2 separate regions of the Homo sapiens genome follow, and region 1 is linked to region 2. The links come from fine-mapping of genetic effects on gene expression. A gene starts in region 2. The other region holds a variant in brackets. All regions are shown on one strand. Distances are from middle to middle.

The links.
Region 1: its variant is fine-mapped to the expression of CHCHD6 in lung (TOPMed, PIP 0.91).

The regions. Positions count from the first base shown.
Region 1 is chr3:126,966,505-126,975,919 of GRCh38, reverse strand. No RefSeq gene overlaps it. Among named protein-coding and RNA genes, the nearest start is that of PLXNA1, 12 kb to the left of the region's middle. The variant C/T (reference allele first, on the strand shown) is at 3,659.
Region 2 is chr3:126,700,765-126,710,179 of GRCh38, reverse strand. CHCHD6 (coiled-coil-helix-coiled-coil-helix domain containing 6) reads right to left here and starts at 5,940. Exons shown (of 8, transcript NM_032343.3): 1 at 5,781-5,940. The coding sequence starts at 5,867. RefSeq lists enhancers at 4,689-5,240, 6,301-6,360 and a silencer at 5,551-5,750.

The sequences.
Region 1 (9,415 bases), 270 kb before region 2:
GGGCAGCAAGAGATCAGCCTCCTGCTTCCCTGGAGATGAGGGAAGCAACCCAAGTTTTCTCATTGTGCTAAAAACACCTGGGTTAAAGTGGGGATGCTGGGTTTCCCTCCCCCATTCCTGATGTAATGGGGCAGCACCCCTCTCTGTCTACCATATGGGGTCAGGAGAGGCCAGCTGTGAAACAGAAGATTGAAATGTAATCCAGAGTCTCAACATACAATACCCCAAACTTTCAAGATCCAATAAGAAAATCACCTGTCATAGCAAGAACCAGAGAAATGTCAGTTGTACCAGAAAATACAATCAGCATACACCAATACTGGTATATGTTGAACAGGAAGGAATATCAGGATTACCTGATGAGGCTTTTAAAGCAGCCATCCTAAAGGTGCTTTGATGAGCAATTATGAACATGCTTGAAACAAATGAAAATAAAGAATGTTTCAGCAAGGAAATAGAAGTTATAAAGAGAACCAAATGGACACTTTAGAATTTTTTAAAAACATACAATAATCAGAATAAAAACTTAATCGATAACTCCAAAGCAGAACAGAGGGGACAAAGGAAAGATGCAGTGAACCTGGAGATAGAGCAATATAAACCACCCAGTCTGAAACAGAGAGAAAATAGACTAGGGGTGGGAGAAAAGAGTTCTCTGAGAGATAACAAAAGATCTAATATTCATGTCATCTAATTGCCAGGAGGAGAAGAGAAAGAGGACAAAGCCGAAAAAATATTGAAGAAGCAATCTCCTAAACTTGGCAAAAGACATAAATGTAAGGATTTAAGAAGCTGAATGAACTCCAAACGTTATAAACCCAAGGAAATCCACACCAAGACATATCACAGTCAGACTTCCAAAAACTAAACAACAACAAACCCCAATTTTGAAAGCAGCCACGTAACCACCTTCCAAAAAACATGGATGTCTCATCAGAAAGCATGGAGGCAAGAAATAAGTGGAACGTTTTTAAGTGCCATAAGAAAAGAGCTGTCAACCATAAATTCTATACCCAGTGAAACTATCCCTCAGGAATGAGGAGGAATCAAGACCTTCTCAGGTGAAGGGAAAAGTAAGTTTGTTGCCAGCAAACCTACTGTGAAAGGAGGGCCAAAGGAAGTTCTTCTCATGGAAAGAAAGTGATAAGGAAGGAATCTTGAGACATCAGGAAGAAAGTACAATGGAAAGAGCAAAACTATGGGTAAATACAATGGACCCCTTCTCTGAAGGTTTCTAAGTTACATTTGGTGGTTGAAGCAAAAATTATAGCATTGTCGAATGTCTCAATGTATGTAGAAAAAATATTTAGGATAATTATATTATAAATGGAAGGGGAAAAGGGACACAAAGAGAGGGAAGCTTTCTACATGTCACTCGAAATGGTAAAATGTTGATGGCAGTAGACTGTGATAAGTACATATGTATAATGCAGTATGGCAGCCACTAGAAATCTATACAAAGATATACACTAAAAACACTGTACAAAAACCAAAATAGATGCTTAAATATGTCCAAGTAACACTCAGCAAGGCAAAAAAAAGAAAATAGAGAAACACCACCACCAACAAACACAGGAACAAACAAAGCAAAAAATAAAACAGCAGACTGAAGTTATGTCAGTAATTACAGAAAATGTAAATGGCATAATTCCATTTATATAACATTTTTGAAATAACAAAATCATAGAGATGGAGAGGAGATTGGCGGCTGCCAGGAGCTGGGGTAGGGGGGTGATTGTCACTGTGAAAGGGAGTACCAGGGGGTCTCCATGGAGAGGGAACAGCTCTGTATCCTGGTTACAGGGACAGAAACATGGATCTCCATGTGTGATAAAGTGACACAGGGCTTGACACCCTTGTCACACCAGTGCCAATGTCCCTTTTCTGATGTGTGGTGGTTATGTAGAATGTGACCATTGGGGGAAACTGGGTGAAGGGTACACAGGCTTCTCTCTCTATTATCTTTCCAACTTCCTGTGAATCTGTAATTGTTACAGATTATCATTATTTCAATATAAAAAGTTAAAAAAAATACCTTTGCTGTTGCTCTTACACCAGCACCAACTCCACTGCTGGCGTTTCCTCTTGGGCAGAACCAGTGCCCTGTGCACCCCCATAGAGCTCACAGGCCAGCAGGCCTCTGGGGGCCATACCCAGCAGAGGCCATCACAGCAATCCTGGGCTGGGCTGCCTGGTCCCAGCTCCCAGAGCCATCTCTTCCTTCTCCAGGCCTCAGAGCTCATATCACCTCTTCAGAGGAGCCCCGATTGATTCCCTGATGGAAAATGCATCCCAGTCCCATTTAACCAACTGATAGTCTCTGGTCCATTCAGCTGTTTATTATTCCGGCCCCACAAATAGCAGCTCTGCAAGCCAGGGAGCCCATCTTCTCAGGGGCACAGAGCCTGGTGCCAGGCAGAGCATCCATCAGGGGCTGTGGGGGTGCAGTTGCTATCAGTTGCTGCAGCATCACAAGTCGCCCTAAAATGTAGTGGCTTCAGCCAGTAGCTGCTCTTCTCTCTTATGGTCTCTGCAGGGAATTCAGAGAGGACAGTGGGAAAGGCTGGTCTCTGTCCCAGTGTCCGAGGCCTCAGCTGGGACTTGCACAGGCTGCAGCTCCTCACCCACCTGTCTGGCAAGACTCCCCTGGGGCGGGGCTCTTTGGCAGCTCTGTCTAGCTCTGTGGGGCCTTTCCACAGCCTCTCCAGCATGGTGGCTTCAGGGCAGCCGACCTTCTTATGTGTCCATGCACAGCTCCCATCCAGGGGGGCAGGGAGAGGAAGTACAGAGGAGGAGAAGCGGGGGTTTGGGGCTCAGAAGCCTGGAGGGCACCACCGCTGGGCTACGCTGCATCAGGCAGATTGGTGACAAGCCCCATGGCTCTCCAGGGAACAGAGCACAGCCCCCTCTTCTGGCAGGGGTGACAGGCCCACTGTGCATTGCAAAGCCCTGCAGGACGGATGTGCAGGGGAGGCAGTCTTTGGAAAACACAATCTGCCACCTGACCAGCAGCAGGCTGCCTCCAGGGGCCTGAGCTGCTAGCCTTGGATTCCAGCCCCAGCCATGGAGAGCCTGCTGGGAGCCCCCTACCCACCCCCAGCCCCATGCATGCCTCTTTGCAGCAGCCTGCACTATTGATGGGTTGGTGCATGGGTGGGAGTGGAGCTGGAAAGGGAGGGTGGGAGTTTGGGGATCTCTTCTAACCGCCATGCCATACTCTGCCTCAGCCCTATGGAGCAACCCTGGCCCAGCGGGGAATGCCACCATGGCAGCTGGGGGCTCATCTGAAGGAGCACAGGGTTTGAAGGCAGCAACATGGGGTCCCCTCCCGACACCATCCCTCAGTGCCTTTTCGGGACCACACCACAAATCACGTGGCCCTGGGGTCTCTGTGAGGACCAGAGCAAAGAAATTTGAAGGGCCGGCCCTATGCCAGGTTCCCCAAGGCATCTTGACCACCGGGTGGGTGGGGAGGGGCCACGACTGCCCCCTTTACATGGATGAGGAAACCAAGGCATGAAGAAGTGACAGGCCCCAGGGGCATACTTGGCAACTGCTCTGGACAGCCACAGACGGAGCCACAGAGGCCCCCGGAGGAAGCAGAGAGTCGCCCTCCCCCTGCCAGCCTCTCTTCCTACCCTACCCCCACCCTCCATCA[C/T]GGGGGTGCTTTGTGCTTTCCCCGGTTCACCACGAGCTTTGCACATGATGCTTGTTCTGCTCCTCTGTTCTGGAGACAGAGGGAACAACTTATTTCCCCTGAGGTCACCCTGCTGACCTTCCTCCAGCCCCCGCACAGGCTCCTCCTCTTCTGGGAAGCCTGCCTTGAAGCACCCGCCCACCCGGCCTGGGTTGGGAGCAGCTGCAGCTCACCACAGGGCATCACCCCTTGTCCTGGGCCTGCGTCAGAAGCAGAGGTGTCCCGAGGCCCTGGTGTTGCCAGCATGGTCTGCATTCCACAGAAAATGCGCAGGCAGAACCAGCCCAGCTCTCCTGTGCCCTCAGAAGCCCAGGCCAACCGAGTTGCCCACCCTTCCTGGGCACGTGGTGTGCCAGGTACCAGCCCCAGGGACGCAGGCCCACTGAGGAGGGGGCAGCAGGGCAGCGAAGGGAGGAGCTGGACCTGAACACACAGCACCTAGCTCCAAGCCCCATGGCCTGGAGACCCCATCCAGATGGCAGAGCTTTTTGGGCTCAAGGAATAAACACCAAAATGTTTAAAATATTTAAACATTTAAACATTTAACAGCCAAAGCTAGGTGCAGTGGCATGCGACTGCAGTCCCAGCTACTTGGGAGGCTGAGGGGGGAGGATCACTTGAATTCAGGAGGTTGACTCCAGCCTGGACAACACAGTGTGACTCCATCTTTAAAAACTGAAAAATATGTATATGTTTAACAGCCAGTCAGAGTAGACACCGGACATAAACCATGGGCAGGACAGCACCGGAGGAAGCTGGCTGAAACCCGGCTTTGCTTCATCCCAAGGGACATTCATCAATGTGCTTCCCTGTCTGGCTTCAGGCAGGGCTGAATCCGGGGACTCCCATAATGTCACCAGGCATCTATTTCTTGGTTTCACCTTCCTCTGTGTGCATTCCCAGGTGTGGTGTCCCTACCTGACCCTTTGCTGCAGCCACTAGGAGGAAAATACAAGAGACTTTCCCCAACCTGGAACAGATGCTAGCAGTCTCCCCAACTTACAGCTGCACTCACCTCTCAACTTCACACTATAAGGTGGGGATGGTGTGGGGACAATTGCTCTGATATCACAGCCACCGCCGCCCCAAGTACACTTTACCCTTTGAGTTGTCTGGCCTTTTTTTTTTTTTAAGATGTTTTAATTATTAAAATATATGCTCGTTGTAAAAAAAAAATCCAAGAAATGCATAAAAGGATACAATGAAGTCGGCCTCCCTCCAGCACCTGCCCCCAGCTCACCAGAGCAAAAACTGATATGGGTGTCTCCTGTGTCCATGAAGAGACGTATACACTGTGTCCAACGTGCAGATACAGAGGGACATCCTGCCTCTCTGCAAAAAAACATACAAACTAAGAGCTGCTTTTAGATAGATCTCTCTCTCCTCCCTTCTTTCCTTCCTTTTTCCTTTCCCTTCTCCCTCTCTCCTTCTTATTTCCTTCACATACAATGCAGTCCCCAATCCTTAGGCACACAGCTCAATGAATGCATCTTTACACTTCTACACAAATACATGTGTAATCTCCACAAAACAAAGGTTCCTTCTGACCCCACCCCTCGCCCCCCAGAGAACCCCTATCCAGACTCCTTCACCATAGGTTAGTTTTGCCTATCTTTGAACTTCATATAAACAGACCCATCCAGTACCATGGCAGACATACTCCAGGTCTCCCATGAGTCAGATCTCTATAATCCCCCCCACCTTAAGTGTGTGACTTGCTTCCAAGCAATAGATTGGGCAAATGTGAAGGCATGTCCCTCTCATGATTATGTTACACATACAAGGGATCTCTTTGCTGGCAATGGAGAGTCTGTGAGCAAGTCTCCAGGCAGGGGACGACTGGTGGCCTCTAGCTGAGCTGATAGCAAAAAGACAGCCCATCGATCCTCCAGCAAGATAATGAATTCTGCCAATATCCAGGTGAGCTTGAATGAGGAGCCTGAGCTGCAGAGAGGAACCCAGGCTAGCCACATCTGGAGGGCAGTCTTGGACCTCGCTGCACCACACCAGAGCTCTGACCCACGGAAAGCAGGGGACAGACATATATTGCTGCAAGTGACTGTTTGTGGTCATTAGTTAGGAGGCAGCAGAAAGCTAATACAACCGTGAATTTTTCTGTATCTGCCTCTGTCTCTCACCGCGAGGTGTCTGAGAGATCCATCCATGTTGCTACAGGGAGCTCGAGTGTGTTCTTTTTCGTGATGCTGTAGTATTTCATCGTGTGAATAAACTACAACTTAACCATTCTACTTTCCATGGGCACTTGGGTTATTTTAACCTTGTGGCTGTGATGAGTAAGGCTCTATGAACATTCTTGTGCGTACTATTTAGAGGACATACATATTCATTCTCTTGGGTATTAACTCAGGAGTAAGATTGCTGCATCGCAGTGTAGGCGAATGTTTAACTTTGTAAGGAACTGGCAAGCCATTTTCCGAAGCAACTGTCATCCTTTCATACTCCTCACAGCAGCAGTGAGCCCCCGGGGGTTGCTCCTTCTCACTGACGCTGGGTATTGCCTGTCCTTTCACCTCAGCCATTGCTTGGATGTAGAAGCACTTCCTGGTGGTTTCAGTTTGCATCTCCCTGGTTAGTCGTGATGATGTGGAATAGTTTTTTTCTTATGCTTACTGGTCTCCCTGGAGGATTTTCTAATATTACTTTGTTAGTGCTAGGGTTTTTTTTTTTTTTTATCTGACCTTTAACCCTGAGCTGGAAGTTCAGGGAAAGAGAAATTCACCTTGTAAGGTGAGCATTGCTGGAGACTCTCACGGAGACACACGGGGTGCCTCACCTCATCTTGGCCTGGTGAGCCCCTCAGCAGAGGACCTTGCTAAGCTACACCAGAGCTTGGACCCATGGAAAGCTGGGAACAAAACAATGGGGACAGAAAGAGCTGGGCTGGAAGGAGAAAGCCCAGGTCCCAGTAACTGTGGTTAAGCCTCTAGATGCAGCTGGCCTGAAGCTCACTCCTGGACTTTTGAAGCCCACACATTCTTTGCGGTAGTCAGTTTCAGCGAGGGTTCTGTCACGTGTGCGGGAGGGGGTGACCGACACCGAGCCTCTGTCCAGCAAGCTGACATTTGGAGGCCCCCCAAGCTCTGCAGCATGGGAAAGGGTAGAGGGGATCTCTGCCTTCCAGGCACTCCCCCATCCCACCCACTGCTAGTCTGCACCCCACTTCATTACTGAGTGTGTTTTGAGGCTGAATAACCATGTAATTGGCTCGTCCATTTCATAGTCAAACTTCGGCAAATATGTTTTTCATAATTAGTTGATGTTTATTTAACGGGAATAACCAGCCCATTAAATTTAATGAGGCAGGTTATCACATATGAGGGGGAAGTGTTTTTCCTTATAGAGAACCCGGTTTGGGCGGTGCTGGTCCCAGGGCCAGGGCAATGAGGTGGCTCGCCTGTGTGTGGGTGTCTCTCCTGGGAGAGGAGGCGTGCAGGGAACCGCAGCCCCTGTCCCAGCCTGCTTCGGGCTGTCCCATCCCCTCTGCTTTTTCTGCATTGTGTACCACCCTATAGAACCTGTTTTTGATCTAGTCTGTCTCCCCCACTGATCTCTAAGCTCAGAGGACAGGGCTTTTCCCTCGTGTTGCTCATGCTCCATCTTCAGTAGATGAAACACAAAGGGTGAATAAACAACGGAGACCCCTCTTGCGGCTGCCACTCCCATGGCTTTATGGGCCTCCCTCTGGCACACAGTCGCCTCCTGCCTTGTCCCTCCTCCCCCTTCTCCTCCTCCGCAGGGTTTATGCCCTTGCCTCTCTCTGCTTGGCAGGCAGGGAAAGCAAAATACTCAAGGAGATCCAGGCTTGGCCTGGGGGCTGAACAGCTGGGCCCAGGTAGCACCCACTGAAGACCCCAGATGTGTCGGAAGAGCGGACCCCGGCCTGGCCACGACCCGACAGGCCCAGACTGTGGAAGACCATGTCCAACATCTACATTCAGGAGGCTTCTAGCCTGGGGGTAATAAACAAAATTCAGATTAACTTAGAAAAACAGAAAATACAGTCAATTATAAAACAAAAACCAAAACATCCATAATCCTATCCCCAGAGAAAAGCGCGATAACATTTTAATGTCTAATGCTGTTGACCTTTTTCTCTGGGCATCTATATATTTTTACATATGCATAGGTAAGATTTTTTTCATTTAAAGAATGGGTTTGTACAGTGCATGCTACTTCTTTAAATGGAGTGGAGAAAGTGCCACGTGAATACACTCAGTATCCCTATTCTTAGAGGCTTTAGAGCTGTCTTATGGAGGTACCACATTTTATTTCATCCCCTATTGTTGGGCATTTAGGTTGTTTCCAATATTTTGACACTATTATAAACACTAGTGGCACACACTTGTAGTCCCAGCTACTTGGAAGGATGAGACAAGAGGATCGCTTAAGCCCATGGGGTCAAGGCTGCAGAGAGCTAGGATCGAGCCACTGCACTCCAGCCTGGATGACAGAGTGAGATACTGTCTCTAAACAACAAAAGAACCCCCACCCCCTGAAAAAAGCATGAACAAAGCAGCTCCTTCACCTGGCTAGCACCAGCTCAGCCCTCTAACTTCGCATCACCTGGGCCAGGGGTTCTCAACTCCCGGGCTGTGGACCAGTACCAGTCCCTGATCTGTTAGGAACGGGGGCGGTGGGCGGCGAGCATTCCCTGAGCTCCGCCTCCTGTCAGATCAGAGGCAGCATCAGATTCTCATAGGAGTGCAAACCCTATTGTAAACTGCACATGCGAGGGATCTAGGTTGCATACTCCTTATGAGAATCTAGCTCATGCCCAGTGACCTGAGGGAAAACGGTTTCATTCTGAAACCATTCCCCACTGCCTCGACCCCATCCATGCAAAATTTGTCTTCTACAAAACTGGCCTCTTGTGCCAGAAAGGCTGGGGACCACTGACCTAGGCCAAGCCCTAAGGCCCTGAGCTTGGGGGCCTCACCACAATTGATGGCAAATGTCACCTTTCCTGCTAGATCCTAAGCCCATGAGGAAATGGACTGGTATCATTACTGCTTGGAGGGCACCTGGGATAGAATGGGGAGAGCGTAATGTTAGTTCTCTGTGTCCCTTGAGCAGCTGACTCAGAGATAAACCTGCAGGGCAGTTCTCAGGAGGTACCGGGGTCCACACCCATGTGGTGAGGGAGGGGGCAGTGGGCAGAGGGTGGGCTGGGCTAGCTCCTGAGTTGGGATCCGCTTCCAAGTCACTCCCAGTGAAGACACCCTTTATACCCCACCCCATCACCAGGCAAGGGATGAAGCCCCTGGCCCCCAGGGCGTACTGTTGGTGAAGTGGCTCTCAGCAGCCAAGGCCTTCCTGGGGGGCAGACTTGCCCTGCCTGTGTTCCCAACTCCATGAGCGTTCAGCTCCCTAAGGGGACGGTGCCTATGCCTGTCCCCACTTTACACATGAGAAAACAGACTTAGATGTTCAGGAGTGGCTCAAGGCTTGGATGCTCCGGCTCCAGGGTGGGCGCTCCAGGGCTATGTGTGAACAAAGGGAGGAGGCAGTGAGCAGACATCAGGACGAGCGCCCAGGACACAGGACCTGCACACATGCTTCCTTCCTTAGGATTCGTTCTTAGAACTAGAATTGCTATGCAAACGGTGTGCACATTCCCAAATCTCCAGTGATGATTCCGGATTGGGCTATTGCTTTTTCCATTCTGCCAGTTTGGCTTCCTGTATTTTGAAGCTCTGT
Region 2 (9,415 bases):
AGAAATAAGATCTCATGAAGCAAACATCGATTTAGATCAGGGTTCAGCAAACTCTGGTGCTTGAGCCAAATCTAACCCACCAATTGATTTTGTAAATAAAGTTTTACTGGAACACAGTCAAAACCACTCACTTAAGCATATTGTCTATGGCTGCTTTCCCCTACAATGGCAGAATTGAGGACAGTCATCCTTTGGTATCCATGTAGGATTGGTGTCAGGACCTCTGTGGACACCAATATCTGAGGATGCTCAAGTCCCTTTTATAAAATGGCATAGTATTTGCATATAACCTACACACACCTACTATGCACAAAGATATCTTATAGCTTAACAATAAAAAGACAAATAATCCAATTAAAAATTGGCAAAAGATCTGAATACACATTTCACCAAAGAAAATATAAGGATAGGCACATGAAGAGACGCTCAACATCATTAGTTATTAGGGAAATGCAAATTCAAACCACGATGAGATACAATTTCACAGCCACTAGAATTGCTAGAATCGAAGATAATAACAAGTGTTGGTGAAGATATGAAGAAATTGGAATCCCATGTATTGCTGGTGGAAATATCAAATGGTACAGCTTCTTCAGCAAACAGTTCAGCAGTTTCTTTAAAAATTAAACCTGACAATTCACAAAATTCATAAACTGAATGACCCAACAAATCCACTCTCAGGTATCTATCCATGAGAACTAAAAACATTTGCCTGCAAAAAAACAACTTGTAAATACATAAATGTTCATAGCAGCGTTACTCACAATAACCAAGAAGTAGAAAAAATTCAAATGCCCTCAACTGGTGACTGAATAAGCCAAATGCAGTATATACATACAACAGGATACCATTCAGCAATAAAAAGGATGGACTACTGATATATACTACGACATCAATGAACCAACATCAAAAACACTTGCTCAGTGAAAGAAGCCAGAAATAAAAGATGCATTAATCATTTACGTTTACAGTCAGTCCTCCGTATCCATGGGTCCAAAGGAAAACATTTGAGAAAAAGAAACAATAAAAGATAATATACCAAAAAAATTATACAAATCTTTAAAAATACAGTATAACAACTATTTACACAAAATTTACAGTGTTTGGGTATTATAAGTAATCTGGAGATAATTTAAAGTATACAGGAGAATATGTGTAGTATATATGCAAATACACCATTTTCCATTAGGGACTTGAGCATCCAAGGATTTTGGTATCCATGGGGGTCCTGGAACCAACGACCCATGGATAGGTCATTGAAAGACCAAGAGGGGACTATCTACGAAATGTCCAGAGAAGGTAAATTTATAGAGAAACAGGATTAATGGTTACCTGGGACTGGGAGTGGGAATGGGGAGTGACTGCAAACAGGTCAAGGCATCTTTTTAGGTCTTGTAAATGTTCTATAATTGGATTGTGGTGACAGTTGTCCAATTCTGTCACCACAGTTTACTAAAAAGCATTGAAATGGGTGAATTTTATAATATGTAAAATGATGCATCCCAATAAAGCTTTTTTTTTTTTTTTTTCAAGAGATGGGGTCTTGCTACACTGGACTCGAACCACTGGGCTCAGGTGATCCTCCTGCCTCAGCCTCCCATGTAGCTGGGACTACAGGTACATACCACTGCACCTGGCTTACAACTGTTGGTTTTTGTTTTTAAAGAAAAATCAGTGTCACCAGACAGAACCTTTCCAAAGCTCTGCTCCTGACCAGAGAACTGCAGCGTGGCCTCCAGAATAACATGTTCACAGCCCTGCCTGGCATTTGGGCCCTGAGTCTGGCCTCACCACCTGCCACATCCTCAAGCATCCTACCCTCCTTGTGGCTGCCAAGCACATGGGCTATGGAGTCAGAGACCCTGAGGTTCCAGCACTGTGACCTTGGGTTACTTCACCTCACTGAACCTGTTTCCTCACTTCTGAGATGGGGATAATGACCCCTCACAAGGTAAGCATGTGGAATTTCTGGGGTGATGCTCTGAATACACTTGGCAGAGTGCTTAGCACAGAGTGAATATGCACTCTTCATAGGGCTGGCTCAGGCCACAGTCAACATCTCCTCCTGAGAGGCACTGCCTGACCATCCCACCTCAAGCAGGCAGCCCCAGTAGCTTTTGCACCCTTTTTGTTTCCTCCTTAGCTCTGGCAGCTCTTTGAGTCTTTTGCCTGTGTCTCTTCCTTTCTGGTCCATTCTCCCTACTGGGCTGAGGTCTCTATGATGACAGGGTCCTCGGCTTTGTCCCTCATTGTCTCAGCAAGGCCAGGCCCAGTGCTGGGCAAGTAACATGAAGGCAGTGGACATTCACTGAGGTGAGGAATAACTGGCAGTTGCAGGTGCAGCGCTCTGGCACACGGCCTCTCTGGCACTGGCACAATGGGGGACTCTCTTGTGTGTCTGACCACATTCTTCTTGATCTTCCCCTCCACCGTGGTCCAGAATCAGCCTCATGGGAGCAATGCATGACGGTAAAGTTGATCAAGCCTGGAGGGGATAATGACTCTGGGAACATGCAAGTGACTGGAACAGGGGTGGGCTCAGTGGTGGGAAAGGGGGAAAGGCTGGTGAACAGTGAGCAGTCTGGATGCTCACAAGCAACCAACATCAGCTGAATCACCAAAAAGGGCGGCTCATGTGGAGAGGAGGAGAGGGAAGGCAGACACATATGCGCCATGACTGCCATGTGTGCCTTCTCTTACTGAAGGATGAGGTTAAATGTACTGGTTAAAACAAAATCTTTACGTATTTCACACATTTGCTCTGAAAACTGGAGTTGAATATAACTGCAGCATTTTGCATTCATTAAATTTCTTTTACCTTCCATGGAATTACGGTTTGAACACACTTTGTGAATTTATGCAAACTAAGTATGTAAACTAGCAAGGCCTAGCACTTAATCTTTTTTTTTTTTTTTTTTAAGACGGAGTCTCTGTCACCCAGGCTGGAGGACACTGGCATAATCTCGGCTCACTGCAACCTCCCCCTCCTGGGTTCAAGGATTCTCCTACCTCAGCCTCCCAAGTAGCTGGGTGTACAGGTGTGTGCCACCATGCCCAGCTAACTTTTGTATTTTTGGTAGAGGCAGGGTTTCACCATGTTGGCCAGACTGGTCTTTAACTCCTGACCTCAGGTGATCTGCCCACTTCGGCCTCCCAAAGTGCTGAAATTACAGGCATGAGCCACCACTACCAGCCACTAACACTTAATCTTACAGGGACGAGAACACTTTCTAAGACCAGGCCTCAGGAATTAAATACAAATGGTCATTAAGAATATTCAACTTGCTCTAAAGAAGCTGGGGCAGATCTTCTTTGGCATCTGCTTCTCATTAAATGAACTGATTTGTTCCCTTTGGCAACTGTTTTGTTGATCTGGCAATCTTTTTCACTCACTTGCCTAAAGACAAGGTGAATTCCTCAACCCTCAAGTAACTCTGCTAACAGAAAAAGCCTCTACACCAAAACATCCTTTCTTCATACCATCACCTCCTTTCTTCAGTTTTCCTCTTTCAAACACAAGCAGAAGGAAGGACGTGGCTCTCATAACGTGGGGCTGTGCACCTTACTGTGCACCTCTGGACAAGTCATTTATCCTCTCTGATTAGTTTGCCCAGCTGGAAAAGAAAGCAGTCAGTCACCAAAGTTCCTTCCAGTTTTAAAACTAAGTGGGGCACTATCATCCCTGTCAGGACAGGTATGGGTATTGTCACAAAATTTTCAGGCTGCCTTGCATACATCATGGGGGGGAATTGCAGAAGTGAGAAAAAGTTGCTTTTTGCACCGAAAAGATCTTAATTAAAGTCCCAGAAGTTACTCAGGTTAACACCTTGGGCAAATTCCTTAACTCCTTTAAGCTCAATTCTCCATCTTTAAATACAGAGAATTTATATGTTGCAGAAGTATTTAAGAGAACTAGAAATGAAATGTACCTGTCTTATATAATACTCAAAAAACATGAGGTTTCCAATCAACTTGAAAGAAGGCACCCCCAAAGGCACTCCCCTGAACCTCTGAGGACTCCAACTTAACTTTCCAACATTCCCCAAAACAGGAGACCAAATCACAAGGGTGAGAGCACCCAAACAGAGCCAAGCTTATCTTTCTAAATTCCAATTCAGGTTCCTCCCTCTCGGCCTTCCAACACAAGCCATCTCCTCCCCCATTTAATCCTTGCCACGAGTGAGGTCCACAAAACTATACAACGCCTAGCAAGCACCAAATGTGCCAAGTACTCTGCTAGGCTAAGAAGAGAGGCCTCCACAAAGCACTCTCTCTGTGCGTTTCCTTAACACTTTCACAGACATCATCTTATCCTAGGCAGTACCTAGGATACATACACACCCAATTTTTTTTTTAATGTGGCCATTGAGGCTCAAAAGAGTTTTTTACCCAAGGTCACACAGCTAATGAGCACCTGCCAGAACTCCTGAAGTCTGTCTTTCTAAGCCACCTCCCTAATTCCTCCTTAATTAACTAATTCATCTACACCCAGCTCTGTGCGTTTCATTTAATCCTAGTCCCTTTTACTGGGTTCATTCATCTCTCCACAGTTACTTACAAAGCACCTGCAGGTGTAGACACAGGTGGAGGAAGAGGCCGAGCACAGCAACATGCCCTGGAATTGGCTTGTTTCAATCCCAGCTCTCCCACTTACTATTTACATGATCTTGGATCAGTTCGTTCACCTCTCAGTGCCTCACTTCTCCTTAATCTACAATAATGGGCTAAATAGGGCTGTTGAAAATTAAATCAGTTAACTTATAAAGGGTTTAGTCCAACGCATGGCCCCTACACTGCAATAAGAGCTGCTTTTATTCTTCTGGGTTCTGGGGACAGTCTTCAATCAGACAGGAACCTTAGCCTCAAAAAGCTTACACTCTAGCAGTAAACGCAATAAACAAGTAAACAATTATCAACAGAAGCGATCACTGTGATGAGTGCTATGAAAATAATAAATGTTGGACGCGGGGTGGGAGGTTACTTCAGATTGGGTGGTCAGGGAAGGATTCTCTGGTGATATCTGAATTACAACAAGAATTACAAGAAACAGCGGGATTTAAGGAGAGCTGAAGGAGAGAGAACAGCCGGCGCACAGACCCTGAGCTGAGCCAGCGGCACCCTCCAGGAAAACACGGCGGTCCTGAGGCTGGGGACGAGGTGCGGGTGCCACGCGAGGGAAATGGCACGAGATGCAGTCCCAGAGGGATGCAGTCCCCAGAGGTCGACGGGCAGCGGCCAGCTTTGGAACCAGGGAAGGCATCATCCAAGCGCGCTAGGAACCCACTGGAGGGTTTCAGGCAAGGAAGGGGATCAGATCTGAGCTATGGTTCTTCCTGCGCCCCGCAGATGTGCTGTGGAGAACAGGCCGGCGGGGAAGAGCTGAGTCCCCAGGCAAAGCCCAGGTGGGAGACACCGCGTACCCAGAACGAGATGCGCGCACCTGAGGGGCCACGGGCTGGGAGGCCGGGCGCAAATTCAAGAAACGTAAAAACTAAGCCGACCGGAGCCAGGACGTGGCCAGGGCGTCCCTCGTGTCCCAGGGGCCTCGCACCTGTACAGTTCTTCACTCCTCCTTCCCTGAAGCCCATGTCGCGAAGCTCCAAGGCTGCCAGCCTCGGGCTCGCGTCTCGGCTCAGCCTCTTCCTGGCCTGAGCCCCCGGAGTCTCCCAAGCCCCACGCCCCTCACGCGTGGAAAGAGCCCCGGCCCTGCGCTCCGCCCCGCACCTCCCCCCCGCGCCCGCGGCCTCCACGCCCGCCCCGGCCCAGGCGGCGCCGCTCACCCGGACACCCTGCAGCACCCGGACCCGCTCCTCCTCGTCCACTCCGAAGGACACCCTGCGGCCCTCGCTGCTCTCCGTGCTCCCCATGGCGAGATGCCGCAGGGCCGGCAGCCACCAGACCCGAGACCCGGCTCCAGAGCAACCGGGCCAACAACGCTTTCCAGGACTCGCGCGGCCGCGGCACACGCCAACAAAGCCACGTCCTATTGGCCGACGCCAGAGGCTTCACCAATCGGGTGGCGCTGAGTCGCGGTGCCTTGTGGGGATTGCAGTCCTTCCGTCTGGAGGGGTGGGGGCGTGGCGGTCTGTGCCTGCTAGAGTGCGTTAGGCTGAGGCCGAAGATGTGTACCGGCGGAGGCCCTGGAGTGGAGGGCTGGGTGCAGGACAGGGTCACGTTCTCGCTTTGGGAGCTCCCCCTTGAGGGAGAGCCAAGGGTGATGTTCTGAGGCCAGGAGACGCCGAGACGGCCAAGGCGCTCATCTGGAGGCGAATTTCTGAGGGTTCACTGCTCCATTCATTCAGCAAACACGTGTAGAGCAGCACGGGCTGAGCGCCAGACGAGCAGGGACCTGGCCCTGGCATTACAGCGCCCCTCAAGACAGCGAGTGTCCTGCCCTTGAGAGGTTTACAGTGCAAGGGGAAAACAAGTGAAAAGCCAAACACGCACGCAAGGAAACTGACTGTAATACACGGAAAACTGCATGGCGATGCCACTAGTAAAATGAACAGAAGGAGGCCTCTTTTAATTTCAGTGGCCAGAGCAACCTCTGAGGAAGAAGCTTTGAACTGAGCCGGCGGGAGAGTAGGATTTATGTAGAAAAAGGTAGGGGAAGAGGTTTCCTGGGAGTCTCAGGCAGGAAAAGAGAAAGAGGGGTCATCCCATGGCTGGAAAGTGAGAAGAGGGCAGAGGAGTGGTGAGGACCCAAATCATGTCGGGTCTTGTGAGGCAGGGTCTGAGTGTGGGTTTTATTCTAAACGCCCCGGGAGGACAGGGAATGGTCCTAAGCCGTTAGGAGGCATTGCCCAAGGAGTGTACATACCATGTGTGGAGTGCAGTGTGCCAGGCATTGTGTGTAGGCTTCTTACACAGGACCCTATGTGTAAGGGAGCACACAGACGGTTGCCAGTCATAGACACTGCTACCTTCAAATAAGCCCCTTTTTGTTCCTCTGAGTTGCTGAATGGCTTTGATTTGCAAAAGTGCGCCTGAAGCCGAGCTGAGGAAAACTAGATGGCTACATGAAATAGCCAGAAAATATTTGGAGCTCCTATTGGCAACCTGGAAAGAAAGGGGTGAGGAGGAGAGAATGATTGAGAGAGAGCAGTAAGGCTCTGAGATTGAGAATAGCTCAGGGTGAAGAAGCTAGTAAACATCCCAGAGCTGGTGTGACGATGGAATCTTTAGGAACAAAGGTGTCTGCTAGTTTCATTCAAAATACTTCATTGGCGCACCCCACTCCATCACCTCTGTCGTCCATTTCTTCCCTATAAGCAGAGCCTGCGTAGGGGATTCTGGTGCAAGGAGTTTCCTGGGGGAGCACCTCAGGAGAAAGGAAGTTAGGGAGACAGGCTAAGAGGGGTGGGGACCGGGGGCCGCGGGGAAAACTGAGTAAAGATGTGGTCAGACCTGGTCCTGGGCTTTCCTTTGTCTCTTTTCCTTGGAGGTTTATGATTACTAATTCAATCTCCTTACTCGTTATTGGTCTGTTCAGATTTTCTGTTTCTTCAAGACTCAGTTTGGATAGATGGTATGTTTCTGGGAATTCGTCCATTTCTCCTAAATTATCCAGTTTCTTGGTGTATAATTGTTCATAGTAGTTGATTATGATCTTTTGTATTTCTGTGATATCAGTTGTAATGTCTCCTCTTTCATTTATACTTTTGTTTATGTGAATTACCTTTTTTCTTGGTTAGTCTAGCTAAGGTTTGTTAATTTTGTTGATCTTTACTGTTGATCTTTTCTGTTGTTTTTCTAGTTTCTATTTCTGCTCTCATCTTTTTTATTTCCTTCAGTCTGCTGACTTTGGGGCTTAGTTTGTTCCTCTTCTAGTTCCTTGAGATATAAAATTAGGTTGTTTGATGTCTTTCTTTTTTCTTAATGTAGGTATTTTTCGCTATAAACTTCCCTCTTAAAAATGTTTCTATTGCATCCTATAAGTTGTGGTACCTTGTGTTTCCATTTTCATTTGTCTCAAGATACTTGTTTATTCCCCTTTTGATTTATTCTTTGGCTCATTGGCTGTTCAGGAATGTGTTGTTTAATTTCCGCACATGTGTGAATTTTCCAAAGTTCTTCCTATTACTGATTTCTGACAACAAACTATTCAAAAAGAAATTAAGAAAATGATCCCACTTACAATAACACCAAAAAGAATAAAATATGAATAAATTTAACCAAGGAGGTGAAAGAAAGATGCACACAAAAAATTGCACACTAAAAATTATAAGACACTGTTGAAAGATACTATAGGAGACATAAATAAGTAGAAAGATAGCCTGTGTTTATAGATCAGAAGAATTAATATTGTTAAAATGGCTTTACTACCCAAAGTAATCTACACATTCAATGTCATCATTATCAAAATTCTAATGACATTTTTCACATAAATAGAAAAAACAATTCTAACATTTCATATGGAACCACAAAAGACCCCAAATCATCAAAGCAATCTTGAGAAAGAAGCAGAAAGCTGAAGGCATCATACTCCCTGATTTCAAACTATATTACAAAGCTGTAGTAATCAAAAGAGTATGGTACTGGCATAAAAATAGATACATAGATCAATGCAGAAAAATAGAGAGCCCATGCATATATGGTCTACTAATGTTTGATAATGGTGCCGAGAATATACACACTATGGAGAAAGGAAAGTCTCTTCAATAATTGGAGCTGGAAATACGGGATATCCACATTCAAAAGAAGGAAATTGGACCCTTGTATTACACCACATAAAAAATCCATTCAAAATGAATTGAAGACTTAAATGTGAGATCTGAAACCCCAAAACTCCTAGAAGAAAACATAGGTGGAAAGCTTCTTATCATTGGTCTTGATGATAATTTTTTTGGCTATAACACCAAAAGCACAAACAACAAAAGTAAAAATAAACGAATGGTATGACATCAAACTAAAAAAGCTTCTCCACATAAGAGGAAACAAGCAGCAAACTGAAAAGGCAACCTACAGACTGGGAGAAAATATTTGGGCACCATATATCTGATAAGTGCTTAATATCCAAATATACTCTATAAGGAACTCACACAACTCAATAGCAAAAATAAATACCCAATTTAAAAATGGGCAAAGGACTTGAATAGACATTTTTCTGAAGAAGACATGTGAATAGCTAACAGGCATATGAAGAGCGCTCAACACCACTAATCATCAGAGAAATGCAAATTAAAACCATGGTGAGATATCACCTTACACCTGTGAGAATCAGTATTGTAATAAAGACAAGAGAAGTGTTGGTGAGGATGTAGAGAAAAGAGAACCCTGCACACTGCTGGTGGGAATATAAATTTGTAGAGCCATTATGGGAGAGAGTATGGCAACTCCCCCAAAAGTCAATACAATCTAATAATCCTATTTCTGTATAGTTAACTTTAGCCTAAAGCTGCTTCCTTGTAAGTTC